Linked DNA regions of Homo sapiens: region 1 is linked to region 2. A link means that fine-mapping ties the variant in region 2 to the plasma level of a protein whose gene starts in the linked region. Region 2 holds a variant in brackets. A gene starts in the other region. All regions are shown on their reverse strands.

Region 1 (5,000 bases), not on the chromosome of region 2:
CGCATTCACCCAACACATGCGTTTTAGTTTTTCCAAAGTGGTGACTTCACAACAGAACTTGTAGACATTCCTGGGCGCAGTCCCAGGACAATGGGACACCGTGTCTCTGACTGGCCCTGAGGATGATTAAATCCACAAACCCATTTCATCCTGCTCTAATCAGCCAAGCTACAGAGGTCAACAAAATATCTGTAGCATGCAAAGCGGCAGGGCAGAAGAGCGGGTGCCGAGTGAAGCCCGTTCCATCTGTCTCTTCTTCACCTCTCCCTTCTGCCCCATCTCGGACCCAGCCCAAACTCACCGCGTACTTTTGTATGCTTTTGTACACGCTGTTCCCACTGCCTGCAATCCATCCTTTTTCTCATCTGTCAGGCCCATCTAGTCCCATCTAATCTTTAGGACCAACTCACATCACCCATGAAGCTTTTCCTGACCAGAGGAAGCAAAGTCCTAACAGTCTTCAGATAGTGCTGAACATTGGCGGTTGTGGTAGTGGGTAGCATTATCCTTTTTTTTCAGATGGAGTTTTTGCTCTTGTTGCCTTGCCCAGGCTGGAGTGCAATAGCACGATCTCAGCTCACTGCAATCTCCGCCTCCGGGGTTCAAGTGATTCTCCTGCCTCAGCCTCCCAAGTAGCTGGGATTGCAGGCATGCACCTCCACGCCCAGCTAATTTTGTATTTTTAGTAGAGGCGGGGTTTCTCTATGTTGGTCAGGCTGGTCTCGAACTCCCGACCTCAGGTGATCCACCTGCCTCAGCCTCCCAAAGTGCTGGGATTACAGGTGTGAGCCACTGCACCCAGCGGTAGCATTATCCTTATGAACAGAAGCACAGCAACACCTGAAAGGAGGGAGGACATTGCGGGGTGCAATGCGAAGGGCAGCCTTTTTCTTGCCCTCACTGTCCTTGTCTGTATTTGAAAAATGCCCTCGTCAGTTCATGAGGCTCAAGATGGTGGAGCACATCCTATCTCCACTATCCAGAAATTCACTCAAAGACCTTGAGCTCTTTCTGAAGATGGAAATTGGCCTGGGAGGGGGACGTGTTGGGATTCACAGGTGGCCATGTCTGCCCCTCCTGCTCCACACAGGTGTTCTCACAGCTCCTCTTAACTTGATCCTCTCCAATAGACAGGGCGTCCAGCTGCTGCCATTGCAATGGCTGGCACTCCCACTCCCTCACCCTCACAGGAGTCTGTGCTTTGGACAGTCAATACCCACTTTGGTGACTGAGCATCTATCCCTCCCCTTTCACCATGCTGACAGCCAAGTGGCCCGTCCTTTGTGCCTTTCTCATCTGCCTCCCTAGCCAGGCTTAGCAGCCACCACAAAGAATATTAAGAGATGGTTTCATAGAACTCTTAGATGCCTGCCAGCTACTGTTGATGCTGTAACCAGCTCTGCAACTGGTTCCTGTTCTCTGCCTGCCTGGTGCCTCTAGGCATCCTGGCCATTGTCCCATCCTGAAGATCTCTGAAGACCAGGGCAGAAGACTCCAGTAGAGCAAGAGAGACTGGGGAGATAGGTGAGGCAGATGGAAGGGAGGGGAATGGGTGGTGGGTGGTGGGGAGAAACCATCATCCTCATCTTCAGCAGCCAATCCAGAGCCTGGCTTCCCAACCACTTGAATGCTCAGAGGCCAGCTTCCCCTTGCTCTAAATGTTCCCCTTGCTCTAAAAGCTGGGTGTCTGGGACACCTCTAGAGAGCCCAGGAAGAATTCCACTACCTTTGCTAGGTTTCCTACTATGGCGTGAGAATGGATTTGGGGATGAGAATGACACTATCAGTTCAAACCATCTGCAGTCAGCTCAGGCACACAGCTTTTTCTGTGCAAAATTCCTGCAGAGAGCATTCTAGGGCCTGGCCCAGCTGTCGCAGCCCAGGTGCCCACCACATTGCAAGAGAGGTCTGTATCTTGCGAAATAGAGATTTTTCAGCCACATGAATAGCTGCAGTGGGAGCCTGACAGTTCCATGCGTCAGCCCACACGGCAGCAAGTCTAGTCACTACACACCTACTGCTGAGCCGCCTGTGGGAAAATCTTCCCTGGCCACCTGCCACTCCTAACCCCTCTGAGCTATTTGGCAACAGAGACACAGGTGTGAACAGAAGTCATCATCATAAAACTTAGTCAATCTCATATAAGTAATTACCTCAAAAAACAACCCCAAAGTCTCATTAGCCAGATAGTAAAATAGAAAGAAAACTAAGAGACAGATCCAAGAGATATAGGATTTTATTTGGAGATGAACTTGTGTTATAGCAAAAGGGTACGAGTTTTACGTTCAGAGTTCCAGCTCCCCTGCTTCCCAGCTAAGTGGCCTTGAGCGCGTTCCTTAACATTCTAAGGCTGATTTTTTTCATGTTTAAGTGGAAGAAAATAACACCCCTGCCTGGCAAAGTTGTTGTGTGATCAAAAAGATAATGTACATGAAAGCTCTTTGCAAATGGTAAAGTATTATGCAGTAATGAGTTATTATAATTCAGTCTTCTAACAGGGCACCATGGTATCCCTTTTATCTCTCCTACCACCCAAATGTCCTCTCCCCTGCAAACCTCAAAGTATTCTGCATGGAGCGTGTTGAGCACGTGTGTGTGTGCACACACACACGCGCACACACACACGGTGTTCAGGCATGTGTCTCTGCATGTCATTTTCATAGCTGTGTCTAGGCAAGACCTGTGAAATCTCCACGTCCCAGAAGCCAGTAAGAAAGCACCAGCTCAGAAGAGGGTGTAGCTCAGGGGTAGAGCATTAAACTGCAGATCAAGAGAAGGCACCAGCTCTGCAAAGCCTTCGCCATTAACAAAGAAGTGAAACCAACAAGCTTGAGACCCAGGGTTTCCCTTTATGCATGGCGGAAATTGGAAACAAACCATTTCTGGTAACCAGTAACTCTTAGTAATTAATAACGTAGCTCTTAGTAACCAGTAACTCTTAGTAATTAATAAGGTAGGAGTAAGAAAGTAGATGCCTGGAACTGACCTTATAAGTAAGAACTAGGCAGAAAAAGAACTGGCAGGAGATGAGGGAGCTGGGGAGAGACTGCAATGATCATCTAGTCCTGATTTCACAGATGAAATGGGGTCTCAGAGAAGAGAGTGGACTTGTCCAGGATGACACAGGGGCAAAGCTGGAACAAGAGCCCAGGTCTTCTTCCTCCATGTGAGCTATTATCAGCCATTCATTTTCAGTTCCATTTGGCTCCCATATTTCTGAAATAACCAAATAATAAGTCCAAAAGGAACTTACCCAAAAAATTTTTCTTGGCCACAGATGCTGGACCCAATAAGGGCCCCAATGAACAGTATCCACCTCATGTCCCCGGGGAGTCAGTCATACAGTGGCTGAGTCAAGCTGTATTTATAAAGAGTCTGAGAGTGACTCAAGTCCTCAAAAATGCTAATGTGATTCCCAAGCACCCTTGCAACTCTGACTGTGACAGGCAGGCCCTACCAATGCCTCTCCCATTCCTTTCAAGTGATAAAGGTTGAGCATCTCAATTTACAAGGTCAGGAACTTGCTCCAGGAGCTGAAAAAGTCTGTGCCAAGGGTACCATATTGCTCATCACTTGGCATTTAAATAGTGTTTTTTCAGTGAATAAGCTAATTCCACAGTGTTGGATGGAATTTATCCTGATAGGAGAGGTCAGATTATAAACCTGGCATAGAATTACCTCTAGAATAATAATAAAAAAGTTAAGACTATCAAAGCAAGACTGAGCTGGCTCCAAGACCACATGCTTGACAAGCCCTGCCAGAGAATTTCACCAGGGCAGGTCAGGATGAGGAAAGAGGTTTGGGGCCTCTTTTATGTATCTGAAGCCTAATTCTTCTGACTCCACTAAGGAAATAGAAATGTATCAGGCAAATGATATAGAAAGGATGTTTTAGTCTGAATAAATTATCAGTGTTCCTTGGGGTCTGATCTATGGGGAAGGCTTAATGGTTTTATCAATAATAAGATTTTCAGCCGGGCGAGGTGGCTCATGCCTGTAATCCTAGCACTTTGGGAGGCCGAGGTGGGCGGATCACGAGGTCAGGAGATTGAGACCATCCTGGCTATCACAGTGAAACCTCGTCTCTACTAAAAATACAAAAAATTAGCCGGGCGTGGTGGCGGACGCCTGTAGTCCCAGCTACTCAGGAGAATGGCGTGAACCTGGGAGGCGGAGCTTGCAGTGAGCCGAGATCGCACCACTGCACTCCAGCCTGGGCGACAGAGTGAGACTCCATCTCAAATAAATAAATAAATAAATAATAAGATTTTCTTATACTTCCTAGACTGTGGGTCTGGTGTCCTTTCCGCCAAGTCACAGCTGAATAAATGGAAGACACTCATATCTCCATAACGCCTTCAGGGGCTCTGGGACCTTTGAGTCTGTCCTGGGAGCCCCAGTTCCCACAGCCTTTCCCATCCCACCCTCCCTACGGTCTACATGCTTTCCACACCCACTCAAAGGGAGTGGACACAACCAAGGGTCATAGTTGAGAGAGTTAAAGAAAAACTATCCTGACCTGTGTTAAAATGTAAGACCTAATTCAAGATTATTATGATTAGGACCATGGCTATTTCAGTAGGAAAGACTTACTGTGCTTAACACTGAATACGGCAAAGAAAACAGAGAGGATCAGTGGGATTACTAAGAGAAGACATCAAGGTAGGGGGATTCTTGCTAAAAGCAGGCCAAGGACTTATACATCAAAGTCCCCATCAAAGGTGGGGATGAGGAACTTGATCAGATATCAAGGTGGGAGGGATGACTTCGCAGGATCTTTGCTCAGGCTGGCTTAGCCAGGGCTCAAGAACCAGCCTAATCAAAAGGAGGGTGCAGAATCTCAAGTGTGGTCCCAGAGAGAGCCTTTGTTAGGAGCTGTGGAGCTAGGGGCCATCATCTCCTCTTGCTCCCTCAGGGTCCTTTTGTCCTCTCAACACTTCAACTGAATTCCTACACCCACCCTGTCCACCACAAAGCGTGGGCTCAGCGTCACTGAGATC
Region 2 (5,524 bases):
TCCCCAGGCCTCAGGAGGATGAGGAATAAATGAACCGACCCGGTCCCCCAGGCTCCCCTTCATTCATTCAACCAGCGAGTGTTCCCAGGGAGCTCACTGTGGATGGGGCTCCCCATGGGAGCTGCAGACACAGCAGGGAGCAAAGCCGCCCCCGCCTCCTGAGCTCACCTCATGGTGGGAGACAAAATGCAAATAAATGCATCGTGTCCAGGAGTGCAACGTGCTGTAAGGAACATAAACCAGGGAAAGGGCAGAGAGTGTGGGGCAGTGGGGCCAGTCTGAATGGAAGGGGAGGGCTGTCTGCTCAGCTGTCATCTGAGAAGCCTGGACAGAGTGGGGCACACGATCCTCTGATGGACGAGCCCCTGCAGGCAGAGGAAACAGCCGTGCAAAGGCCCCGAGGCAGCAGCGAGCTCTTGCGGGAAGGCCCGTGAGGCTGCAGCCAAATGGGCAAGGTCAGAGTGAGGAGCAGAGGCCAGAACCACAGGGAGGGAGCGGCCAGACCCTCCACGGCCTTAGGGCGTCCCTGAGATTCCATCAGGAAAGGGATGTAATCGGATCACCCCGGGAACAGTGAGGAAAATTGACTCCAGGAGGTCAGGGGGACTCAAGGACACCCCCCACCACTGTCTCTCTCCAGCAGAGCCCACACGATGAAGACCCCCAGGCAGTGACGTATGCCCCGGTGAAACACTCCAGACCTAGGAGAGAAATGGCCTCTCCTCCTTCCCCACTGTCTGGGGAATTCCTGGACACAAAGGACAGACAGGCAGAAGAGGACAGACAGATGGACACTGAGAGAGTCCTTTCCTCTCCAGGCCCCCAGGCCTCCCCCACCCCCACCACGTTCCTTCCCTCTCACTCTCCCCCGCTGCAGGCTGCTGCATCTGAAGCCCCCCAGGATGTGACCTACGCCCAGCTGCACAGCTTGACCCTCAGACGGGAGGCAACTGAGCCTCCTCCATCCCAGGAAAGGGAACCTCCAGCTGAACCCAGCATCTACGCCCCCCTGGCCATCCACTAGCCCACGGGGGACCCAGATCTCATACTCAACAGAAGGAGACTCAGAGACTCCAGAAGGCACAGGAGCTGCCCCCAGTGGACACCAATGAACCCCAGCCAGCCTGGACCCCTAACAAAGACCACCAGGACATCCTGGGAACTCTGGGACTCACTAGATTCTGCAGTCAAAGATGACTAATATCCTTGCATTTTTGAAATGAAGCCACAGACTTCTCAATAAATCAATGAGCTGAGAAAACTGAAACAGAAATTAGAGCATGGTATAAATTTGGAATGATAATGTAAATATTACACATTAAATGATGAAATCGGAAAACTACAAATGAGCGAATGAATTAGAAAAGAATAAAACCTACGTAATTAATGACCTTGGCAATGACAGAAAGAATTTAGAAAAAGAACAACAAATTATTCCAAATGAAGGTGTGAGGAAGGGGACAAAAATAACAAGAGGAGTTACTAATGAGGGCTACGTGAAAACTCGATGAAGCCAAAAAAGCTCATTCTTGAGAATGTGAATTACATTCACAAATCCTAGCCACAATAAGCAAGGAAAAAAGCGGGGTTCAGGCACACATTTCCATATGGGGGTGAAACAGCAGACACCACCACAAATCTGACACATATTGCCTTTATTTTTTTCACTTTTAAGTTCAGGGATACATGTGCAGGTTTGTTAGACAGATAAACTTGTGTCAAGGGGATTTGTCTTGGTTTTTGTGTGAGGGTTTTTGTTTTGTTTTGTTTTGTTTTTTGAGACGGAGTCTCGCTCTATCACCAGGCTGGAGTACAGTGGAGTGATCTCGGCTCACTGCAACCTCTGCCTCCCGGGTTCAAGCGATTCTCCTGCCTCAGTCTCCCGAGTAACTGGGACTACAGGCACCTGCCACCACGCCCGGCTAATTTTTGTATTTTTAGTAGAGACAGGGTTTCTCCATGTTGGTCAGGCTGGTCTCAAACTCCCGACCTCAGGTGATCCGCCCGCCTCAGCCTCCCAAAGTGCTGGGCTTACAGGCGTGAGCCACCACGTCCAGCCCATACATTTCAATTTTAAAGGGATGCGCCCTAGTCCTTAGTTAGTCTCTCCTCATCTCTATAAAATGTTCAGCTACTCACCTCTTGGGCTATTGCTAGACATCGTTTTCTCTTCCTTCTTTCTGACGCCTACAATAGATAGGACATTCCCCCTCCTCATTCTATTCTCCCAAGTACTTTAAATTGCAATTTATAAAGTTTCTATGCTACACTCTAAAAAAAATTCTGTTTTGTTTTCTAATTTCATAATTGGTGCTTCACTGTGTCTTGTCCTCGAAGGAATGAGTATTTTGATTGTGTTCATTAAATCTGATTTTTCTATGTCTTCTAATTATTTTATATAATATTCATTCTGCTGTAGAAAAAAAAATCATATAATCCTGCCTCAGAAATTCAATGTCCTCTGTATTTCTCAAATATTTAAACATGTTTAACCTAAGATGGGTCTCACACATTCCTAGTACTCCTTTTGACCATGATAATCCTCATTAGTGAGTGTGGATTGTCAACCATAGCACTTTGTGTTTGATTTTTTGGTTTGTTTTTTGTTTTTATTTATTTATTTATTTATTTTTTGAGACGGAGTCTCACTCTGTCACCCAGGCTAGAGTGCAGTGGCGTGATCTCAGCTCACTGCAACCTCTGTCTCCTGAGTTCAAGCAACTCTCCTACCTTAGCCTCCCGAGTAGCTGGGACTACAGGTGCCCGCCACCACAACCAGCTAATCTTTTTTTTTTTTTTTTTTTGTATTTTTAGTAGAGATGGGGTTTCACCGTGTGGCCAGGATGGTCTCGATCTCTTGACCTCATGATCTGCCTGCCTCGGCCTCCCAAAGTGCTGGGATTACAGGCGTGAGCCACCACGCCCAGCCTGTGTTTGTTTTTGAGACAGG[T/G]TCTTGCTCTGTCACCCAGGCTAAAGTGCAGTGGCGCACCACCCCAGTTCACTGCAACCTCCGCCTGCCAGACTCAAGCGATCTTCGACCTCAGGCTCCTAAGTAGCTGGAACTACAGGTGTGCACCACCACACCCAGTTCATTTTTGTCTTTTTAGTAGAGATGGGGTTTCACCATGTTGCCCAGGCTGGTCTCGAACTCCTGGGCTCCAGCGATCTGCCCACCTCGGCCTCCCAGAGCGCTGGGAAAATAGGCGTGAGCCATCGCAGGCAGCCAGTCATAGCACTTTTTATCATTAGGATGATTCCTCTTTCTTCTCATTCTTGGACACTCATCTCCCAGTGCCTCATCTGCCAGAGAGGGTTTCTACCAGGGCTGCACTGGGCGTTAGGCTTGAAAAGAGGAGGACGGCACCACCTGCCCGGGTCTTGTGAGTCTGCTCAGGCCTGTAACCAGCAGGGGAGGGTCCAGTGTGAACCTCATGTCTGACAACTCTACAATGAATCTATTTCACACACACAGAGGGGGAGGCTCAGGGCTGACCATAAACCTGAGTCAATGAGCAGAGATACCCCAGTGCCATCCACAAACACAGGGGACGAGGAGCCACAACTTCCCACTTTCACCCAAAACCCCAACCCCTCCCTGACTGTGAGGGCCCTGGGGTTCTCCTCTGTCTCATATAGAGGCGGAAACCTCCCTTTTAGTGATTCCCTGACATTGCAAGTCACCAGAAGCCAACTCAGCTCTGACCTCGCTGCTTCCTGAGGTTTCCTGCCTGTGTCAGGAAGTTTCATTTCTCATTTCCTTCTATGGCTGCGTATTTCAGAAACATGTATTAGTCAGGGTTCTCTAGAGGGGCAGAACTAACAGGATAGATGTATATATAAAGGGGAGTTTATTAAGGAGTATTGATCCACACGATCACAAGGTGAGGTCCCACAATAGACTGTCTGTAAGCTGAGGAGCAAGGAAGCTAGTCCGAGTACCAAAACCTCAGAAGCCGAGAAGCCGACAGTGCAGCCCTTCAGTCTGTGGTCAAAGGCTCTGCATGGGAAGGTCAGGGATTGGCAGAGTAGGAGATGGACCTGGCTGGGCTGGGGGTGAGAGCAATGCAGGGTCCGTCCTGTACAGCCCACTCCCTCCCCCAGGCCCTGCTGTGCTGGGGAAGGGAGGGTTGTAAGGAGGACACAGCCCCAGATGGAGACACTAAGACAGGCCCCTGCTGTCAGATGAGAAGACCCAGAGCAGGAAGCAGGTGTCCACCTGGTGGGGCAGCAGGAGGACAGCTGGGGAAAACACAAGGTCCCAGGTTCCCCTCCCAGACCTGCTTCTTCCAGGCTGGGGGGCCTGGGGCAGGCGATTCCCCCCTCTGAGCCTCAGTTTGTGCATCTGTGAAATGGGTTGGGGGGTTGGCAATCCCACGTTGCACGACTGCTGTGAGGGTTAGAGCTCATGAAGACCCAGCACGCGCCTGCACACAGTAGGTGCTCACATCAGCGATGTCATCCTCATTCCCGACGTCATCACGCGCAAGGTCTGGGAAGATACCTGGGGGTTGTAACCGGGGTCTCAGTGGCCTTTGTCCTGCCGCTCGTCCTCCTCCTCCAATGTCGGCGTCAGAGCAAACACAGGACATTGGGTGAGCAGGGACTGGGGGAACCTGTGGGCCCACCGAGGGTGGGATCAGGGCACCAACCAAAGGGGAACCAAACACACAAGAAAGTCAGCTTAGAAAAACAGCTCCAGAAAGTCCCAGCTGAAAAATCTAGAAAGAAGAGAATAAATATGAGTGTATGTGCAAGTAATTTATTCTTTGAGCTTTTTATTTTATTTTATTTGAGACGTGATCTGGCTCTGTCACCCAGGCTGGAGTGCAGTGGTGTGATCTCGGCTCGCTGCAACCTCCACCTCCCAAGATCCTCAATGATCCTCCTACCTCAGCCTCCTGAGTAGCTGGGACTACAGGCCCCTATCACCACGCCAGGCTAATTATTTTTTTGCGGGGGAGAGATGGGGGGTCTCACTATGTTGCCGAGGCTGGTCTCAAACTCCTGAGTTCAAGCAATCCACCCGCCTCAGCCTTCCAAAGTGCTGGGATTATAGGCATGAGCCATTCGGCCCAACGTCTTCGGGCCTTTTTAAGTGTATCCAGTATTTAAAACAACTATGCCTGTAATCGCAGTACTTTGGAAGGCTGAGGCAGGTGGATGGCTTGAGCCCAGGAGTTTCAGAGGACTCTGGGCAATGTGGTGAGACCCCATCTCTACAAAAAAAATTAAAAATGCAAATAAGCCAGGTTTGGTGGTGTGCACCCGTGGTCCCAGCTACTCAAGACGCTGAGGCAGGAGGATCACTTGACCCTATGAGGTCAAGGCTGCAGTGAGCTGGGATCGCACCACTGTGCTCCAGCCTGGGCGACAGAGCGAGACCTTGTCTCAAAAAAAAAAAAAAATATATATATATATATATATATATATGGGTGTGTTTTCAAGTTTCATTTTTTCCCCTAAAGTCGCATGTACTGGGTGGGTGGTTCTAAGGTTCCCAGGGCTGAGACTTTGTCCTTCTTCA

Direction of the effects. Alleles are on the strand shown, and positions count from the first base shown. The strength of an association depends on the size of the effect and on how common the allele is.
For the plasma level of the protein whose gene starts at base 3,341 in region 1, G is the low allele of the variant in region 2 and T is the other (strong association).

The links. PIP is the posterior inclusion probability: the model's chance that the variant is causal. The UK Biobank Pharma Proteomics Project read protein levels with antibody pairs (Olink). The fine-mapping took linkage between variants from a reference panel, not from the people measured, so its PIPs are less certain.
Region 1: it holds the start of CPA4, and the variant in region 2 is fine-mapped to the plasma level of the CPA4 protein (UK Biobank, PIP above 0.99).

Annotation. Positions count from the first base shown.
Region 1 is chr7:130,291,502-130,296,501 of GRCh38, reverse strand. CPA4 (carboxypeptidase A4) reads right to left here and starts at 3,341. Exons shown (of 11, transcript NM_016352.4): 1 at 3,254-3,341. The coding sequence starts at 3,321. RefSeq lists an enhancer at 2,847-2,936.
Region 2 is chr19:54,246,286-54,251,809 of GRCh38, reverse strand. It overlaps LILRB5 (leukocyte immunoglobulin like receptor B5), which reads left to right. Exons shown (of 13, transcript NM_001081442.3): 13 at 878-2,389. The coding sequence ends at 1,024. It overlaps LOC107987463 (a long non-coding RNA gene), which reads left to right and starts at 3,864. Exons shown (of 3, transcript XR_007067341.1): 1 at 3,864-4,592. RefSeq lists an enhancer at 1-316. The variant T/G (reference allele first, on the strand shown) is at 2,951.